2 separate regions of the Homo sapiens genome follow, and region 2 is linked to region 1. A link means that fine-mapping ties the variant in region 1 to the expression of a gene that starts in the linked region. Tissue or cell type: whole blood. Region 1 holds a variant in brackets; the other region holds the start of a gene. All regions are shown on one strand. Distances are from middle to middle.

What was found. PIP is the estimated chance that this variant, and not a neighbour inherited with it, causes the effect.
Region 2: C1orf226 starts here. The variant in region 1 is fine-mapped to the expression of C1orf226 in whole blood (TOPMed, PIP above 0.99).

Annotation. Positions count from the first base shown.
Region 1 is chr1:162,073,880-162,076,640 of GRCh38, forward strand. The region is part of intron 1 of NOS1AP (nitric oxide synthase 1 adaptor protein); the gene reads left to right. Among named protein-coding and RNA genes, the nearest start is that of NOS1AP, 5.6 kb to the left of the region's middle. The variant G/A (reference allele first, on the strand shown) is at 1,089.
Region 2 is chr1:162,380,478-162,383,086 of GRCh38, forward strand. It overlaps C1orf226 (chromosome 1 open reading frame 226), which reads left to right and starts at 1,251. Exons shown (of 2, transcript NM_001085375.2): 1 at 1,251-1,741. The coding sequence starts at 1,425. RefSeq lists a silencer at 1,902-2,196.

The DNA of each region.
Region 1 (2,761 bases):
GTAAATCTCACATGCCCTGAGAGCCTGTGGCTCCTTAGTAACTGCCTCCTGATCTCCCAGTATGTCTTCCTGGTGGCCAGTGCCATCAACTGACTGTCTCTCCTCTCTTGGTGAGAAAGAGACTTTTAATGCTATGGGTACAAAGGATAATAAGAGTATTAATAATAGTTATATCTTATATCTGTAGGTGATTTTTGATTTGCATTGGACTTCTACATACAAAGACTTTTCCTCTTATAGAGACAGGCACAGGCACATTAGTGTTATCTCGATTTTTCAGACCAAAAAATGGAGATCAGAGAGATTAATTTGTCCAGAGTTGCAAATTGGTGTATCAGTTAATGATATTTATTGAGCACTTACTATGTGCCATACATTATTCTAGCCTCTGCCTCACTTAATCCTCACACTCCAGGGCTTTTGACTCCAGGTCCATGGTTCTTTCACCTCCTCCAAGGCTCACTCAAACCTGAAGTATTAATAGTTGCTCCCTTTGTAGTCCTAACACTCATTGCCTAGATTGTTCCCTTATATCTGCGTGTATGATACAGATGGTCAGAACTGGAAAGCACCATGGCTCATCTAGTACAACCCCCTCACCCCATCATTGTACAGATGAGGAAATTGAAGTTTGGAGGGGAAGTCATGGACCCAAGGTCACATAGTCAGATAATAACAGAACCAGGACTTATCCCTGGTTCCCTGGCTTCAAACTGGTTTCAGTTATCCATCACTTCAAAACAAACGACCTCAAGACTCAGTAGCTTGAAACAATAACTGTTTAATTTGCTTATGAATCATGGCTCAGGAATTCAGGCAGGGCTTGGCTGGGCTGTTCTTCTGTTGCTTATGGCGTTGACTGGATCACTCACTTTGCTGCATTCATCCACAGCTAGGCTGGAATGTTCAAGAAGGCTTCACTCATATGACTGTGCCTTGGTCGTCCTTCATGTGACTATTCTCTTCACTGGCTGGCTTGGATTTCCTCACAGCATGGTGGCCCTTTTGTTTGGCAGCTGGTTTTCAGTAGGGGGTGTTCCAAGCAGGAAAGCAGAAGCTCTTAAGGTTGGGTCTTTCTGAGTTACATA[G/A]GGTCACTTCTGCCACATCCTGTTGGTCAAAACAGGCTATTAGGGAAGAGACATAAGCCCTACTTCTTGATGGGGGAATGTCAAGTTCACATTGCAAGATTGCACGTGGGATGAGAGATATTGCTGAAGCTGTTTACCACACAAAATTCTGTTTTTTCCTCTCTGCATATATCTTCTCTGGTGATATGGAATGTTCTTTGAGGACCTTGCCTCATGCCTTGGTGTATCTCCCCCTCCCAAGCCTCAACATCAGGTACAAACATAGTCACAATGAAAAATTGTCAAGTGGAAGAAATGACCAATTGTGGAAAGTCTGAAAGCAGTAAATATCATTGCTGAGTGATTTTGTGGCTTGGGAGCATGTGGTCAGATTGAAGCTGAATTCTCTGGCTATATTTCCTTCCTTGCTACCTGGCTTCATTGGTTGATGGTTTCCCTGATGTGGATTTTAGAGATTCCAGTAACCTCAGCAGGATATCTGTGGATGCCTCTTAAACATACGGCCATGAAGGCCTCCAGATGAATGACATTTGGTCACCGTAAATGGGGTATCCCTGACTCGTCTGAGCCTGCATGGCATGGTACAGAGCTCTCAGAACCATTCCACTATACACTGGGTGTTTATGTCCCCTTTCTCCCTTCTCTCCACCCAGACTAAGGGTCCTGTCTTCCAGGGTTCTGGAACAGTAGCAATTCAGATTAAGGGTCTGATGTATTTTCTGATGTCATCATTAAGGAGGAGACGTAGTTCACTTTCTTATGCTTTTCCAGATGCTTTTAAAAACACTTATCTTCTGCCCAGACTACTTTTTTTTTTGGTGGGGGGCAGTGAGTTCCAAAGATACAGTACTGCTCTGAAATGACACCTATTTTATTTGTCCTTACATTGCTCTCAGATGTCCCAGTATGTTCCTCCACACCTGGTATCTTGGGATTTGATGGACAAATCTATTTCCACGTTAGCTGTACATTTCATGATTTTATGGCTTTCAGTCGTAGTTCCTTTGCCCACAATGTCCCAGTCCTTTTTAGTGGTCAAAATCATGCAGCCACATCTAATGATGACCTTTGCCAGTTATCTATACTAATCAGGCTTGACTCACTGTTTACTATTGCCTACTCATAATGCAGCTACTCCCAAGACTCAAACTTTCAGAATGCTTTCGCTGGCTATAATTACCTGCCTTCCCTTTATACCTTTGTTGCCTTGAGGATGCTCTTAGCTCCTCAGTGACCTTTTTGCTGCCCTTGTCCTGCTGTCTACCCTCCCCAGCAGCCTGGGACCATGCCCATGGCCGTTCCTTCCTGCCTTTTTGCCCTACCCTGCAAACTTGATCTTTGCTACTTTTCTTCTTCCTTTCTGTTTTTGGAAAAGACCATTTATATATTTTCTTTGGAGAATGTCTATTCTGATCCTTTGCTCATTTAAAAGTTGGATTGGCTTTTTACTATTGAGTTCCCTCCTTTCTAATAGTTTTATTGAGATGTAGTTCACATACCATACAATTCACTAATTTAAAATGTATAATTTAGTGATTTTTAAGATATTACAGATCTGTACTACCAGCACCACAGTCAATTTTAGAACATTTTCATCACATTAAAAAGAAACACTAGGCTGGGCGCGGTGGCTCACTGCTGTAATCCCAGCATTTTGGGAGGCCAAGGCGGGT
Region 2 (2,609 bases), 310 kb after region 1:
AGCAGAAGAAAAAGTACACCCTAACCCCAGTTACTCTTAGAAGAGGCTCAGTGAAAATAGACACTTAGCAGAGGTGTTCACAAGGAAAGGAGCCTAGTCATCAAATGATCGAGCGATCTCCTTTCCTCAGACTGACAACATATCTGGGGTAGTTGGTGTAGACAGAAACCTTGACCCAGATTCCAAGGCCTCAGAGTGGGTCTGGCTGCCTGATGACTGAGCTGGATTTCCAGATAGGGAGAGGATGGCCAAGTGTGAGTGTGTGGACAGCATGGCTTAGAGCCTGGAGCTCCAGTCATTTCAATAACAAACCTTTAAGCTACCACCTTGGCCACCACAATTTTCTATCTACAAAATGGGTTTTGGCGATTCAAGATCTGTATTGAGCACAGCTAGGTACCAAACCCAGGCTAGGTGTTGAAAATACAAAGATGAATGAGGCATGCTCTCTGCCTTGCAAATCTTTACAACCTAATGGGTTTATACCCAGCTCTTTGAGTTAATTTTTCAAGCCAAAGAGGATCCCTACAAGAAGGACCATGTACCAGGCATATATAGGCAGCTGTTCCATGATCTATAGCAGGGCAAAGTTGTGGACAGAGCCCTGAGCTGTGGGTTAGAAGGCCTGAGTTCTAGCTCCAGCCCTGCTAGTATTTAGCTGTGTGACCTCAGGCACGGCACTGCATTACGCGGAGTCCTGCAGGCTTCATCTGTAGGTAGATATCCTTCCATGTACCACCTCCCTAGGTGGTTGTAAGGATTAAGTAAGCTGATGTTCATTGGGATCCTCGTGCTTCACTGGCACCGAGTTCCTATCCATTTGGTACGAACTGATTCTGAACCACCACTTAGCACCTCTGCAAGAGCTGGCCCACTCGCTCAAGGCCCACCTCTGTAGACCTGAGGAGCTGCTGCCCCATTTTTTGTGGAGAATATGTGCTATACTCATGGCCTTCAGTGGGGAGCTTCTAACACCAAGCCTCATCCATGCCATCCCTCCACCAGCTTCCAACCCACTGAGAGCTCAGCACGTGCTTACGGTGATGTAAAAATGTCATGTTTCATTGCTTCATCCTCATTTTTTCTTTACTCCAAAGGGCGTGGTGACTCCAAGGTAAAGGGGCCAAGCCCATGAGTCAAGGAGGCAGGTTTACAGGAACAACTTTATTTTTTTATGGCTAGCATTAGTCACTGATTAACTTGGGTGGGGCAGAGCTAGAATTTCTAGTTCCTGTCCCATCAAGAAAACTACACTGGAAAGTTCAAGAGTGTCTTTGCTGGCTCTTTCTTGAATATTTCCAAAGCCTTGGAAGTTACAGGTTTTGGGTGTGGGATAAGGAAAAACTGAATGATAGAGCACAGGTACCGCTCCCCTTTCCTCATCATGCCTCTCTGTCGCCTCTTTGTTCATAGTTGACCACGGCATGTTTGAGAATTTGAACACAGCCCTCACTCCAAAGCTCCAGGCCAGCCGCTCCTTCCCCCACTTGTCCAAGCCCGTGGCCCCCGGCTCTGCCCCTCTGGGCTCTGGTGAGCCTGGGGGGCCAGGACTCTGGGTGGGCAGCAGCCAGCACCTCAAGAACCTGGGCAAAGCCATGGGGGCCAAAGTGAATGACTTCCTGAGGAGAAAGGAGCCCTCCAGCCTGGGCAGTGTGGGTGTGACAGAGATCAACAAGACTGCAGGAGCACAGCTGGCCAGTGGGACTGACGCGGCTCCAGAGGCTTGGCTAGAGGATGAAAGGTGAGCCCCTCACCCGCCCAACATCCATGCCCCTCTGTGGACCCACTTGAAAAGGTACAGGGACAAACTGCAGTGTCTGCACAGGAGAACAGCCCCAAGGGAGGGGTGTGAGATTGTCCTGTACTGAAAAGCTGCAGGATCAGGCCACGTTCTCGGGAGCTGGCTTCACCTTCTGCAGCCACAGCTGAAGGTTGCTGAGTGCCCACCATGTCCTCGGCTCTGTGCTGCTGAAGGTTGCTGAGTGCACACCATGTCCTCAGCTCTGTGCTGCAGGCTATAGTTGCATCATTTTGTCTAACCCTCCCAGCAGCCCTGGGAGGTAGATGATATTTCCATCCTGCAGATAACTCACGTTCAGACAGACAAAGTAAATAGCTTGAGGTCACAAAGATAGTACTTGGCAGAGCTGGATTTGAACCCAGCTATTGCCCAGAAGGTCCCCAGGTAGATTCTGATGCCCGGCCATAGCTGAGAAGCGCTGCCGTAGACTGTTGCTTGTGGAGAAGCCTGCACCTGTCACAGCCCACTAGGGCACAGTGGGAGAAGCCCCCTGTAGCAGCCCTCCTGTTCTTCCCCCTCCTACCAACAGGCTCTTTCCAGGCCTTGTTTTAAACACCTGTGCATCTGAGGTGGGAATGCCCTCACATTCCCTGTTTTAAACACAGGACTTACTGCCTGGGTTCTGATTTGACAAGCTTCACCAGCGGTCTCTATCCTGTCTTCTAGAGGCCAGCACTTTGTGCTGCTCTGAACACTGAGTAAGCATGGACCAGGCCAAAAGCTACTGTTATGCTGAAATTGCTAAGGCCTATGTGCCAAACCAAGAACCAGAGCCCAAGGAGTAGAGCAGTTATTGGGTGGGGTGGGT